Regions from separate parts of the Homo sapiens genome. Here region 2 is linked to region 1. A link means that fine-mapping ties the variant in region 1 to the expression of a gene that starts in the linked region. Tissue or cell type: whole blood. Region 1 holds a variant in brackets; the other region holds the start of a gene. All regions are shown on one strand. Distances are from middle to middle.

Region 1 (8,108 bases):
CCAGATCATCCATGTTTGAAACTTCTTACACATCTGGAATCTTCTGTTTTTCTAGATCCCTGTCAGTCAATGGCCAAGTCCTGAAGACTCCATGTCTGCAGTCTCACTCATCCCTTCCTCTTCATCCCCATTCCCCATGTCTCACTGATCCCCTCCCTCCCTTCCCTCCTGTGCACTGCCATCTTTCATCCAGCCTGAGCATATCTCTGAACAGATCATTCCTGTTCTCAATAAGCTTTGCAACAATTATGATGCTGCTACCCCAGTGTTTCTCAACATTTAACGCATATCCCCTTTTGATTAATATAAAAATTGCATACCCTTGTATACATAGACATTACAGACATAGAGATTTTTTTCTATTCTTTAAATATAAAATTATAAAACTCAACGTGCTTCTTCAAACTCTACTCACTATATCCCTACCTCTGTCTGAGAATCACTATTGTTAGACTATGGACTCTCTGAAGGCAGGGCCTAGGCCAGTACCCAGTACATGACAGGCACTCAATAAAAGGCCTTGTTTATTAAATAAACTTGCTTATTTAATAAATAATATTTAATAGGACTATTATTAAGTAATAGGACTTGTTTATTAAATAAACTACTAAACCTTCACATTCAGGGTTATCCACTATATAAACTCAGTCCAGTTGTCCAATTTCAATATCCTACTATTCTCTAGTTGCACTTCACAGCCGATCAAATTATTCCAGCGGTTCTCAAAGCATGGTCCCAGGACCATGGGCATCAGTACCATCTGCGAACTCATTAGAAATGCAAATTCTCAGGCCCCACCCTAGACCTGCTGAATGGGAAACTCTGGTCTAAGAATAGGAGTGGGAGTAGAGCCTAGTAATGTGCGTTTTTATTAAGTGTTTCAAGTGATGCACGCTAAAGTTTGAGAACCACTGAAGTCGCCTATTCATTCTTATGTAAACATTATCCTTTCTACGTCCATGACTGTTCTTACATTCCTTCTACGGGGAAACACCTCAGAACCTAGTCCAGAGCCTGGGTAGTGCTCAGTAAATGTTTGTTTTGTTTTGTTTGACTGAACAGCCAAAAATCATATGAGGCCCACTTGATAGCCCTCATATAACTTAACTGAAATCACGCTTCTTTTTATGTTTACACTATTTCAGCTGATATTCAGAAATGCAAACTCATTCATAGTAACAATGTCGATATTCTAAAAGCATAAATTGACTATAATTTTCTATATTTTGAGAGTAAACCACGTATCATCTACCTTTCGGCATTCACAGCTTTTTACAAATTTTGTCATTTGTAAGATCTTAAGAGGAGATACCTGTTCTCAATTCCAAAGTGAAAAGACTTAAAATCTTTAAATTTAATAATTCAAATTTTCTAGAGCTGAAGGTAGGTACTTATTGATACTTATCTGTCCAATTATTGAGTGTCAAAATCATACAGTTGCTCCTGGGAGCCAGGTGAGACACTGGCTAACCTTGAAGGCAATGCAGGCAAGTAAAGACTTGCACTAAACAGGCAGATTCTCATGAGGAAGAAAATTGAAACCAGGAAGAAAAAGAATCTGGTGTTCCAAGCTGAAGAGAATTCACCTAAATTCCCAGATAACAGTAAAACCCACACACATGAAATGTAGTAAGTCATTAACTTGAAAATTAATAGAAATACAATTGTTCATTGTCTTAAAGGAAAAAAAAACTGTATAATAAAAACTTGAAAATACTAAAATACTACATACACACACATGCACACACACACACAAACACACACACACACACACACTACACATACAAATAGCCACAAAGCCAAGGTCATTTAAATGGCAGAGGTCATATAAGTCCTTCTAAGGAAATGGGATGCATTCTTGATATTAAGATGATACTTCATCAAAAAGACATGATTGGCAGGAAATTGCCAGAGACTACCGTCAGATTATGTTGGGAGCAATCTTACATTACCTAGGACAATTTTCCCCTTTTTAGTTAAGGAAATAGCTTCAGAAACATTACGTTACTTTCGCAAGATCACAGGTTTAAGCTATGTCACAGCCCAGGTCTACTTATTCTTAGACCAGAGATCCTGTCGTTATACCATTCTATTGTCCAGGAGAACCAAGATCTGCTGATGACCAAGAACCACAAAAGAAAACACGTTAAAATTTTAAGCAAGACCACTTGTAACTAAATCCGTCTGATTACTCGCCAGGTACATGAACCACCTTTACCAGGTCTTTAGCACGTTGCCTAACAAACTACGGTAAAGTCCATGAAAAGCTCAAGACAAAAATGTGGTTTCAATGTTATGAACATTTGCAAAACCAGGGTCATATAGAATTTAAATACGTAACAAGCAAACCTTAGTACATAAAAGAAGCAGATGGCTCTTTTATAGACACCCTGAAATGGGTTAAGTAAATGATAACAAACAATCTCCAAGAAGCTCTGTTGCTTTTGTTCTGCAACTCTCAAAACACAGGCTGGAACAACGTATTTTTAATTTGATGGTTGGCCTGATCCTTCTTCAAGTTCTGGTTTCAATAACTCCCAGAGACAACTCTTAACCTGTTAATCCATTTTAAATATATAGGTCAAACATCATTTCAATAATAAAATATCTAAACTCCCACCCATACTCCAGTTATTTTATGTACTAACTATGACATAATCTTTTTGGTTGTAGAGTTTTAGGACTGAGAAGGAAGGACTTTTGACACCATGTAATTCAATAACATCATTATGTAAAAGAAAGAACTAAGATTTCTGAAACAACTTTAATACAACAAAAAGCTTGGTAATCCTTGGGATTACCATAGAGAGAGGTCGTAGGAAAGTGTGCCGAGTATCCTATGTGTTAAATGCACATTGCTCTCCATATTTCTATCTTGTTTGAAATATTGTGAGTACATACCACTTTTAAAATTAAAACACAAAATTCAAAGCAAGGGTTTGCTGCTTAATTTTCTTAAGATTTTAAGAATTAAAAAAAAACACTGGATAATCTGGTAGGAAAATTTCAGTAACATTACTGTGAAAAAAATTACTATATACAGAGGGTTCCCCCCTCCCCCCAACACTCAGAAACACTGTCATTCATCCTCATAACATCCCATAACATAGAGTAGAAAATAAAAGGTGAGAAAAGATAAAGTCTTTATAACAGAGAATGACTCTAATTTAAAATTTTCAAAAACATTAAGCCTTATAATAATATTTCAGTGACAAATAGAGCCTTTAAGATGGTTTCTATATAGCTGAAGAAACCGAGGCACAAAAAGACAAAAATTGGAAAGCAGAGGCAAAAAATTAGTAACAGCTTTAAATTTAAGATTGCAAATCCTGAACTTTATATCCTAGGTAAAATTCCAAGAACTTTCTTTGCTGAAGGGAAAAATAAAAGGATGCATATGCCTTATTCACAACAGCTTGTGCAGACACATTATTAACATACCTATTGTTGTTTCGACAATTTCGGCAGTTAACACACTCCAGAGGGTCAATCTGAGGCACGGCCGTGTACATTCCACCACCCTGGACAGGAAGGAGTGTCAGAGAAAAAGAAAAGAAGAAGGAATGCTGAAGGTACTCACAGACCAGTAGCCAAATAATCACAAATACACATGAGCCATGTCAACCATAAATGGGCACACAGTATATTCTAACCAACTCCCAGAGCAACGTCATTGTGAATATCACTGACCCATATTCACAAAGGAGTGAATGAGAGTTCTGCATTAGATTTAACTGTATTCCAAAAACTTCACTGCCATGTTTTCCTACGTATTTCTGTACTAGACAAAGGTAAATAAATGAAGGGAAAAGTTTAGTCACTTCCCTTCAAATCTAGTGGGCTCAAAATACATTATATGTTATAGCCTCCATTCATTTTCCCTTTCTTGGCAGTCAGGGAAGAATTTCATGTGATACCAGTTGGAGAAACAGGGTGTAAAACCTGTGTAGATGATGTCACATGATAAACTCATCTTCATTTTCCTGTAATTATTTCAATTAGGTCTGTTCACTTGACAACGCTAAGTTTTAAAGCATGCTATATTTTTCCAGATGGAGTAGATCTTCAGCCAGCAATGACTTGGAGGGGGTGTGTTAATATTTGGATGTTGCTTTTGGCGGAAACTGCCCAGCAATTAAGAAAAATGCCCAGATTAACACATACCTCATTGTAAAATGTTCACTTGACAGACAGCAAGGTTCTTCAAAAATGAAGTTAAAAATTAAACTAGCCTGATAGTCAGAGGCAGAATTCTGCTTTCAGAAGAAAAACAGCAGAACTGAATTTGATAAAAGGTGGGAGAGGCTGTCACACTGCACCCAAACCCAAAGCAGGCCTTCAAGGTTAGGAAAAGTTCAGGCAATTGTTTTTCCTAGAATACTTTCCATTTCCATTCATTTCATAACAGTAGCCAGAATCTAAGCAAACCAAAAGTCCTGAAAATTTCCTTCAGTGTTTCTGATCCAACCAGCAACAGGAATTATTAAGAACATATCGAGAGAAAGAACTCTCCTATACTATATTCCATCTGAGGGAAAACCTGAAAGGCTCAGAAAATGAAGTTCACAACCTGCAGGGTAACGTTGTGACTTACGGATTCTCTGAATCCCTCAACACGTTGAAGTTAGTGCAATGATTTTTAGGGTCACTAACACTGTTAAAATTTCTCTATTTCCCCCACCCAGAAAAGTAAGAAAACGAATA[A/G]TTTAGAATCACAGATAACTTCTGACATTGTACACCAAATGGGGCACCTATTATTTAAATAGAAATTCATTGTTCAAAAAACCCAAGGTTCCGTGTTCAAACACTAAAGCGAACATGGGCCTTATGTTTTCTTCTTATGGAAACAGTGTGTGCTATTCAAATGTTAATGCTCTCTCCTTCAGTTTTCTTGGACAATGGTAGTAGTTTGGACTAGGAATGGTGACCAAAAAAGCTTAGAAAGTCTGAATACATGCTGTATCTTTCCACACAAAATAGTGAAATCATGATTCTCTTTTAGTAATGAGATGCATTAAAGCAAATTAATATTTCTTCCACAACATACAAAAGCTAGGTCACATAAAAGCTATTCAATTTCTAGCTTTAAAATATGAGTATATATTAGTTTTGTTCTCCAAATAGATTTTAATAAATCTTTAATAAACTGAAGATGGGGGGAAAAAAAACTCTAAGCTTCTTCAAATTGTAGCACATTGTGGGTCATGGTAAATTTATTTGTAATCAGAACAATGACAAAAACTGAATGCTTAATTCCATCAATTAAACAAATTATCTATTTGATCAAAAGTAATATAGATGTGCATCCAAACAATGTCATAAATCAAACTTTCTAGTGCAGAGAACCCCACGTAAGTCTAAAATATGCTAGTCATTCTACTACCATTTCAAAAATTAAACGCTATCAACTAGTTATCTCTGAAATAAGGTTGTCTTAAGGGTTTATCACTCTTTGTGTGGCTAAAGAATACTAACATTGTAAAATGTAAAAAGCTTACCAGCCACAACAACAAAACATATTGGGCAAAACAAACAAAAGAAGCCCATGAAAGGTCAGAAGTCACAACCCGGTGGCCTGCAGAGATGTTTGGCATGGCCTACGTATGTTTTCAAAAATTTGAATTAGGTGCCAGCATGTAAAAATCTGTCAATTTCACTTGGATTTACAGAGGTTTTGAAAAATCAGAAAATTTGGCAACACTGCGCCCTCAGTCCATGACGACTGTAAGTGTCAAACCGCGGCTGCTTCCTGAAGACACTGTCTGTGCTCTCCAGGTGGCCATCGCCTCCAGTGCTACCATCTCACTCCCACAATTTCCTGATCTGCCTGACTCTTTTCGGCATTTGCATTTTCAAGACCCTGCTCTCGATAAATCAAATTTAAAGTATTTGGTATTTCCATTTCATCTAAAGAACAACTTCCAGTCTGTTCACTGCTGGTATTCCACTTTCAGTGTTAAATAATTTTAAAATGAAACTAAACTGATGAACATAACTATTACCTGGCAATAGAAAACAACTTACAAAGACTACTCTGGATCAAAGGGCTGCCAGTGATCCATGCTGTTTCCATTCGAGGAAACTTGTGAGGTTTCTATACTGAACAAAGCCAAGCATGCTGTCCCTGTTCTAGTACTTGGCACCCTGAGGGACAGAGGGGCTTTTATTTATAGTTAGGTCTCTTACATTCACTAGATGATGAGGATGTTCAAAATCCACGTGTGTCCTGGTTAGAGAGTTGCTGTGCCCGGAGTAAAGCCCTCCATTTAGGCTCCCATTCACAATTCCATTGACTGCATTGGGGACCTTATGGTGAAGGTGGGAATAGCCACTGCTGAGACCGCCATTGGTTAGGAAGCCTCCGTGAACATTTCCATTTATCTGACTTGCTCCTGAGAGAGTGGTGTAGTCCACCATCTGCCCGTTCATATCTGATCCTTGGTAGAGATATCCTGGTGGGTCATATTCTGTTAAAAGAGAACAAAAAAGACACACACGCACACACACACACGCACGCACACATGCACATACGCACACACGCATGCACACATGCACATACGCACACACGCACACACGCACACAGTAAGACACTAAAAAGGACAATCTTCTTGCTGAGAAGGTCTTACAGATAAAACCCCTACGAAACTACAAATAGACTAAAATAAAAACATTTTTAAAATGTTCACTTAAAGCCTACTTGTAAGACATGCTTTAATAAAGTTACTGCTATTATTTTCCATAGAGTGTAGAGATAGCTGTGAACTCTGAGTTAATTATGATTCTGTTAACGGGAAGAAAAATCACCTAGGGAGAAATTACTCAAAAGAGAATGAATATATTGGGCAAGCTGAAACTATCAGAGTACTGGCAATACTAGGAAAAAGTGCTTAAACTCCTATATATTATACTTCTAAGTGCTGAAAAAAACTGCATAAAATGACAACAAAAGACTAGCTTTAGGTGGGGTATTTCAAGTAGCAATAAACAACTCTGTTAAGTAAAAGGATGGAGTTGTATATACAGTCACTGATCATTCATATAGCTCCTTAGTCATTACAGCCAATTTGGAAGGTGTGGAGTACCAAAGGCAAAAAGTGATTCTATTTTCTTTTTTTTTTTTTTTTTTTTTTTTTTTTTTGAGATGGAGTTTCGCTCTTGTTGCCCAGGCTGGAGTGCAATGGCGTGATCTTGGCTCACTGCAACCTCTGCCTCCCGGGTTCAAGCAATTCTCCTGCTTCAACCTCCCAAGTAGCTTGTGCGTGCCACCACATCCGGCTAATTCTTTGTATTTTTAGTAGAGACAGGGTTTCACCGTGCTAGCCAGGTTGGTTTCGATCTCCTGACCTCGTGATCCGCCCACCTCGGCTTCCCAAAGTGCTATGATTACAGGCGTGAGCCACTCCGCCCAGCCTTCTATTTTCTTCTATTAAAAGCATACAAATGACTGCCTCAAAACTGATTTCCAGAGGCACATCTACCAGATATATTTAGAAAAAGTAAAGTATCTCTTAGAAACTAGAGTGTCCAAACTGTACAGGATTTGTTGTTGGAGTCTGGATAAATTCTTCGAAGGTAGGAGAGCTTGCCAAGGCTGGATTAGGTGTCCCTCCTTTCCTTAGCTGCCCACATTACTGTGTGCTCTCGCCCAGGTGTGTAGTCTCAGTACACCTGCTTGTGGTCTCACTAAGCTACACACTTTGAGAGGGCAGAGGTGGTGTTTATTTTATTTACCATTACATCTCCACTGTCCAGAACAGTGCCTGGTATACAGAAGACGATGATTATCTTTTGAATAAATGACTGAATGAACACCACCATGAGAATTTTCCATTTTTAAACATTATCAGGTCACAAAGTAGGATGACTTTAATCTGATTAATATGGCTGGGACGACCAGATTAATGTTCTCTTTTAATGATTCAACACGCACTCACACAATTAAAGGCAATGGCATTAAAACCATTTAGAAAATCAAATGATCACCATCCCTTTCAGATTAATACTTCTCTTTTCATGATTCAACACGCACTCACACAATTAAAGGCGATGGCATTAAAACCACTTAGAAAATCAAATGATCACCATCCATTTCAGCCTGATGCAGCCAC
Region 2 (8,108 bases), 84 kb after region 1:
AATGCCCAGGATTAAGGTGGAAAAAAGCTAAACATATCTTCAAAAAGGCTTCTTTATTTTCTGAACACACTGTATTGTGAGGAGAACTTGGTAGAGGGCTACATGGGAGTAGGACGGAAAAGACTGTGCACTATTTACAACACGACTTTACTTGGAAACAAAATATATCAAATGAACCATCAAATATGCTACTGCATTCTGCATTAGCTGAAAACCAGGAGCATTGGAATTCACATTCTTGGTAGATGAAAACCAATTAACTACACCATCCACCATTCAGAACTGGTCTTCCTTGAAAAGTACACAAGAAACAAACTGGGCTAATATTCTGAAAAAAAGTTTGTGCCCAAACATTATTTGAGGCAGGGGAAAAGGGACTTGGGAAGGAAGACACACTAATGTTTCTCAAAAATTTTGCTCCAAAGATTTTACAGAATGTTTTTGGCAGATAGATTTTCATTTACTTGGCGCTGCTAGCAAGTCTGCAAAGTAATGCCTCAGAAACACTAGAAATGATACAATTCTTAAAAAGACAACAGAAAAGACATAATCTAAATTAGAATTCTATAATAATAATAATGTAACAGAAACAATCAAATTCTATCAATAGTAAACTAAAATATGCCTATTAAAACAAGCATTTCATCACTGCAAAACCATTTGTTTCACATGAAGTCTGATTTTGCTCTCAGTTTGAAAGTTATTAAAACGATACATCAGCCTTTACAGGCAAGACCAAACAGTAAGATAATTTTACATATTTATCAAAAGATCATTCAAAGAAAACTTACCAAGTCTGCAACGTGTATATGCTTGTGCTTCGGAGGGAAAGCAGAGAAGCCACTTTCTGTACTTACACTGGAGTTCACTTCAGTGCTGAAAACACATCACTGTAGTCCTGCTTGTAATAAAGTCCGGACTAGCAATCTGCCTTTGGGTTGGGCTTTTCTCTTACAAGATAAGCTGTTAAGTCATGCCTTGATTTTAGATCTGCCAACATATGGAGTCTTCTAATGTAGCCTTCCCTCCACCCCCTCAACCCCCCCTGCCCGCATCCCCCCAATCCCCGCTCTGCTCCACTCCCTCTGCACACACACACATACACACATACAAAAAAGGCACTGCAGGGCAGAAATTCCTCAGGTGCTCGCTAATGGAATTCCCAGGGTCTTGGAGCCGCTTCGGGGATCAAGAGATCTCATAGCCCCCGCTGGGGTAAGGAGCAGCGAGTCTGTTCCATTTAATCAAATACAGAATGAATTTTCAGCTCTATTCACTAGCTTGTCTCCAGGGCTCTCAAAAGGCACCAGGCAGCTAGAATCACACACATGTGGCTCTTTTAGGCAAGTATAATTAGCTTGATTTTAAAAAGCCACATTAATAATATCACCTCAGGACCATTATTCAGGAGACAGATGACAATGATACTGTATGTTTTAAGCCTGACAATGGGGGAAAGAGCACAAGCAATGAGGGAAAACTTGAAGGATTAAAAAAAAAAAAACCAAGAAACCAGTTTTTCATTTAATTGTAATCCAATATTTTTCAAGTGACATTAAGAATATTCCATACACCATCCCTTCTTTTTAACAAAAAAGAATCAAGTAAAGCCCTCCCCTGTGCTGTTGAAAGTGAGTTAGTGCCAAATACACAACAAAAACTTATCACATGGAATGATTACATACAATATAAAAATTTAAGTAAAAATAAAACATTCTCAAATTCAAGTTCACGAAATTTCTTGAAAAAATTCCCCATTAAAAAATACTGTAAAAAAGCAAGTCCTTCAACTCAAAATATTTGGCAACCATACTCCAAATTCTGTTTCTAATCTAATTAGTTTGTATTAAGTTCATTTACTTAAAGGGGGGCTACCATGTACGCAGCTCATCTACAGCTCCACTGTATTGTCTTACCCATACTTCTACATCATGCCATAGCTGATCACAAGGCGCTGGCTCATATCATTACACGTTAAAGCAACACATTTTTCAACTCATTATTTATTTTCTAACGCTTCCCTGATTTTTACTACGATAATATTTAATTCCTGAAATCATTTCCCTAGTATTTAACTTCGAAACAATCACCAATTTTTAGTCTAAACGTTCGTGGAAAAAAAAAAATTCTACAGAAGGAAAATTTTACTTCAACTTACATTTCGACAAAACCATACATGAAATTGTCTACAAAGTCATGAAGGCAGATGGGCGAAGTGGGAAAATAAGAAGCAAGCCCAAGAAATAGTCAACAAATTTTTACCTGCTCTCTTTAGAACAAAGCCCTAGGACATTAGTTCCTATTCCTACCTACTGCCTTCAGCTGTATATACCCTGACGATCTGGAGGAGAAAGTCCTATCTTAAAGTGAACTTAATTCTTTTCCTGCAAAGTCAAACCACCTGCAAAGAAAGCAAGGCGTAAGCTAGATTTAGAAGCCAAGCTACACAAGCTAGATCAGTATCCAAGTCCTAAGGGTTCTTTGTACTTGAAGGCTTGAGAGTCAGAGCTGTTTAAGTACTTTGCACAGAAGAGGAGGCTGATGAGAACCATGGCAATCAATCAAAGCATCCCAAGTGAGTTATTACACAAACAACAGCACAGTACCTCTAGTAACTGATTCTCCTGGCTGACTAAACTATTCAAACAAAGACAGATTTCCCAAACACTGGGAAGTTTTTGCATGAAAGTTAAACAGTATACATTTGTGTGTTTCTTAATAGAAATATAAATGTTTCTGTTCTACACACTGCCAAACACACACCCAGGGCACGTCTTTACAAAATGAAACAGGTTTTCTCCATCCTTCTCATATAACTTCAAGTATGAGGCAGTTCATTCCAACATGTGCATAACAGAGACTGCAGTATTTGGTGCTTCTCGGGTTCCAAAGAATGCTTTCTAGTTAAGCACTAATTTAAAATTTCCAGAAAATTTTTTGAAGGTTTTCTTTCATCTTATCTTAAAAGTTGAACTATCCCCAAATTTTCAGCTAAAAATAGACTGAGGGTGGGGGAGAACTACAAAATGTCATAGAATGTTTAGAATTATGCTGACAATAAACTCATTTCATTTTCTAACACCCTCCCCACCTTCCTCTCCTTGGAGACACTGTCCACTAGGTATGCCAAGTGTCAGTTGGGAATTTGAGGGTTATGTTATCAGCGCCGAAAGGAATCAGAATTCACTGACTTGGCGTCTTTCATCTTTACTGGCATAGGCCTGAAAATAAATCTCATGTGAGCTTTTAGTCCAACCTCCTGTTTTTCAAGGTGTCTGGTTTGGGACACAAAGGCTGACTTTCTGTTGATGAGGTTCTCTAAATTCTGGATTCCCACTGGAAAGCAGTCTGCCCTTAAAGCACCTGCCACCCTCTGTCGTCCTGATGAGGAAGGGCAGGCATTCTGGAAACAGCTCCTTTTGGAGAGCCTTCCACCTGATTTGGTGGGGTTAGGGAGAACAATGAAGGGAAGGGCAAGAGAGTCTATCTATCCCCCTCAGTGATTTATTGCTGAAATTCCTAGATGTGGAGAGAAAGCAACAAAGGTCTGGAAGCTGCCGACTGAAATAAATAGCGAGCTGTAATGTATTTAGCAAATGATAATGCAATCCACAGAAAGCTTTACAGAGGAGAAGGAAAAATACACTCCCTGGGGCTGGGAAGTCAGTGAGTCTTGTGAAGGCAGAGAAAGATACATTGTGCAGGAAATTTCTCTTGCTTCTCCCTACACATAAATCACTGTCTCTCGCGGGCGCTCTGCAGGGATGGAGATTGAGAGAGGCCAGGGACCCGGCTCCCTTGGGAAAACGCGCGGGCGCCCTAGCTCCCCGCTCTGCGGCATCTCACCTGCCCCCGAGGACCATCGTCAAGAAGAGGTTTCGTCGTGTCACTGACACCTCACCCCGCCTCCTCCCGCGAGGTGCCTCCGAGCCCCCGAGGACGCGGAACGCCGGGGCTCCCCGCCGGGCAAGCATCAGCATCCAGACCCCGCACGCAGCCCTGCACCCCCACGCCCTCCAGGGAACGCCGGCCCGCCCGTCCCCGGGACCTCCCGTCCCCTAAGCCAAGGCCCCCCAAGCCCAGTGCCCGCGCGCCACCCCTCCCTCCGACCCTGCGGCGGGACCCCCACCCCCGCACCTCTCCGCGGGGCTGGCTAAGCCTCCAGACCTCCTGCGCTGCAGCCGGCTCGGAAAGCCACCCCCAGGTCATCCCCCCGCGCGCGCGCGGCGGCGGCTACGGTGGCGGCGGCTGCGATCCGAACGGGCCCCTCCATGCACCGCGCAGGGCAGAGGAGGGAGCGGCGCCTCGCACGCCGGGGCTGGGGCGCTGGGCAGGGCGGGCGGGCGTGGGGTCCCGGGTCTCCTCGCACCTAGCCGCGCGAGCCGGGCTCCCGGGCTCAGGGGAGGGGAGCTGAGGGGCGGAGTCACCGGGGCGCGCCCCCGCGGCTGCGCTCCTCCCCGCCGGGGAGCGCGGGCACGTAACTCGGAGGGTGCTGGGCCGGCCCGGAGCACGCGAGCAGCGGGAGGAGGGACCGGGGAATGACTGACGGAGGCGGGCCGTAGAGGCCGCTGTGCCCCGCCGGCCCGCACCCGGCCGGAGTGTGCGCGCGCAGCCTGCCAGATCAGCGGCGGGGGCACGGGCCGTACCAAGTGACGGAGGGGGGCACGCTCTGGGCAGGACCCTCTCCTCGTCATTGACCTGCCTACTCTGCAAGAGAGATACCCCAGGGGAGCATAGAAGAGGCTTTTCTTGGGTGTAGGACAGGTAAGGGTGAGTTGCCTTACCAAGTCACGGAGATTCCCATCATGCCTGCACTCACGCTCCCCTCACCTTTCATTCCCTTGGAGAGACGGCTCTTCTGGCAGGTCTCCAAATGGTCGACTCTGTCCCCCGAGGCCCCGCCCTAGCCTCGTTCGGGCCCCGCCCTAGCCTCGTTCGGGCCCCGCCCTAGCCTCGTTCAGGCCCCGCCCCTCGCCCCGCCCCGCCCCTCGCCTCTACCTAAGTTCTCTGAGCCGCCAACGGGTGCATCCCTTCTCCCGGTTCTTGCCTGGTCTCTCTTAGGGTTCCAGCGGCCCACCGCTTATACCTCCTTCGCCTTTCCACCACTTTCCATGTTTAATTCCTTAGGCAGCTTCATCTGATTCCCCCACCACCACCCACCCGCCCTGCCTGCACATAAACGCAAGCAGGTAGCAAAACTCAGGGGCTAGGAGAGGCGTGGTGTGAGCCTTTGGCCCCAGAGTCTTTCCAACTCGTCCGTTGGACCTGCCCCAAGTTATCTGAACTCAATGAACTTCAGTTGTTCAAACAGAAAAAGGAAAAATAAATTTCTATTCAAAATGTTGCTGTGAAGCGTAAATACGATACTTTGTGAAAAGCACCTGCCACTCAGTGGGCATTCAAGGACTGTAACTTCTTTATAAATTGTTATTATTAGCAGTTAGCTCTTTTTTTTCCCCATCATCATTACTTACTATTAGCTTAACTACAAAAGGATCCCTAATAATAGTTAAGTTTATAAATACTCAGTACTGAACTTCAGGAGAAATATGCCAGTCCTCCCTTACCTTCTTACGTGAATTTTAAAAAGAAATGCTTTGAAAGTGTGGTATTGTTCAAGCAGGTTAGCTTTCTGCATTAGCTAGATTCAGGGTTTTTGTAAAGCCCCTGGAAAGAAAGTCAGTACAGGACGGAAAAAAAAAACACAATTTTTTTTCTTAAGACGGAGTCTCACTCTGTCGCCCAGGCTGGGGTGCTCTTGTTGCCCAGGCTGGAGTGCAATGGTGCGATCTTGGCTCACTGCAACCTCCGCCTCCCGAGTGCAAGCGATTCTCCTGCCTCAGCCTCCCAAGTAGCTGGGATTACAGCACGTGCCACCACACCCGGCTAATTTTTGTATTTTCAGTAGAAACGGGGTTTTGCCATGTTGGCCAGGTTGGTCTTGAACTCCTGACCTCAGATGATTCTCCCGCCTTGGCCTCCCAAAGTGCTGGGATTACAGGCGTGAGCCACCACACCCAGCCAGAAAAAAACTCTTAACTCTAGTTTGTCCTCCACTGTTCTATTGTTCACTTTTGGAGACCAAGAATCTATATGTTATTAACAAGCTATGGTAAACGATTTTTCATTCGGCAAGTAAGTCTTTCTATAGAGGATTTAACTGAAATGAGAGTTTTGTGTGGATGTTAATAGAAGTCTTGCAAATTTATTGTGGCTACAGAGAATTCCAGGTTCTTCTCCTGGGACATAATGCACTTTGTGCACCTCCAGATCTCACAGTGCCATTTGAATTCACTATGCCTACTGTTACTCATAGTCAGACTAAGAAAAAAATCACAATGTTTGTTGATATTAATTACTTCCTCTCCCCCTTTTTTTGTAAAGCAGAGAAATCATTTCAGGTGTAAAACAGTTTTTCATTAATGAATCATTCATCCATTTGTTCAACATTAAGAAACAATGTGCAGTCCCAAGCTTCAAAGAGCTCACAGTCTAACTGTGATACAGACACACACGTGGGTAAGTACAAGGAGACATCTTCAGTGCAATGAACAGGGAGCTGTGTGAACACAAGGTCAGTATAGTATTGAGTATAGTATTAAGAGGTGATAGTATTAAGAGGTGATAGTATTAAGAGGTGATAGTATTAAGAGGTGATAGTATTAAGAGGTGATAGTATTAAGAGGTGATAGTATTAAGAGGTGATAGTATTAAGAGGTGATAGTATTAAGAGGTGATAGTATTAAGAGGTGATAGTATTAAGAGGTGATAGTATTAAGAGGTGATAGTATTAAGAGGTGATAGTATTAAGAGGTGGAGACTTTAGAAGCTGACTAAGTCATGAGGACCACCCTCATGAGCAAGATTCATGACCTTATAAAAGGGCTTCAAGGAGCTAGCTAGCCCCTTCTGTCCCTTCTGCCGTGGGAGGACACAGAGAGGTCATCATCTGTAAGGAGTAGGCACTTACCAGACCCTGAATCTGCAGGCACCTTGATCTTGGATTTCCCAACCTCCATAACTATGAGAAATAAATTTCTGTTGCTTAAAGAGTACCCAATCTAAGGCATTTTGTTATAGCAGCAGAAACAGACTAAGACACTATGGGGCCTCCAACCACAGATGTCCACTATGTAGAGAACTCCAAGTGGAAATACGGATTTAAACGTCATCAGCATAAAGTAGTGTTTATACCATTAAAGTGGAAGCGATCTCTCAGGAATAATATGGAACCAGAAAGTTGTAGCCAAGGATGGATCTCTAAAACTCCAATAACTAAAGCCCCCAATTATCTTGATGAATTTGGAGCAAAGGCTGTTTACTGAACTCAAGGTATGGGACTTGAAAAGGATGCTTGAAGAAGGTGGTGAAGGTTTGGAATAGTCATTAGGAAAAATGAGAGTTGAAAAATGAAAGTAGAAAATCACTCAGAGAATTGATAAGTGATGCTGAGGGCCTGGCTGAGGTTGGAGACCATTAATGTATGGTGATGGAGCTTGCATGATTATGTGGTTTTCTCCATCAAAATTTAATCAGTCAGGTAGAAGGGGAAAAGCATAACACCAACCCAATTTTGAAGTTTTTCTGGAAGTTGTACAAGAAGGAAAATAACACACGGTATTGGTAAGAAAATTTTTAAAACAGCAATCATAGAATCCAGGCAGTGGAAAAGGTGTAAGAGGTTTGAGAAGAATAATAGACTGGAAAAATTACAAATTAAAGAAAAGGAGATATGTATGACATTAAAGAGCTGTTGTTACAGGATTGAGTAAGAAAGAACCAAGAAGTCTTTGGTAATAACCAGAGTTTACCATTTCAGAAGTAGAACAGTTCCAAGTAATGATTAGATCTAGTATGTTTACCGGTGCTGGTGGACGATGTGGATGATTTATGCCGTCAGGGGACATATTGAAGGAACTGAGAGGCTGATAAATGAAATACCATGAGCCAAGTACTCAAGTCCTCAGGGATGAGGTGGGAAGGTTGTTAGATACTAAGTGACATTTAATACATTCCAGGCCTGAAGTGGGTGCTTTTATAATACTCAATACATGTTAAAATTGGTTCTCCAAGGCCGGGCGCGGTGGCTCACACCTGTAATCCCAGCA

The links. PIP is the estimated chance that this variant, and not a neighbour inherited with it, causes the effect.
Region 2: CDON starts here. The variant in region 1 is fine-mapped to the expression of CDON in whole blood (TOPMed, PIP 0.97). The same link has a PIP of 0.9 or more in hippocampus.

What each region holds. Positions count from the first base shown.
Region 1 is chr11:125,974,863-125,982,970 of GRCh38, forward strand. It overlaps CDON (cell adhesion associated, oncogene regulated), which reads right to left. Exons shown (of 20, transcript NM_001378964.1): 17 at 6,187-6,467; 18 at 3,442-3,521. Among named protein-coding and RNA genes, the nearest start is that of VSIG10L2, 33 kb to the left of the region's middle. The variant A/G (reference allele first, on the strand shown) is at 4,705.
Region 2 is chr11:126,058,442-126,066,549 of GRCh38, forward strand. CDON (cell adhesion associated, oncogene regulated) reads right to left here and starts at 4,425. Exons shown (of 20, transcript NM_001378964.1): 1 at 4,138-4,425. RefSeq lists an enhancer at 1-1,982 and silencers at 4,183-4,852, 4,923-5,012.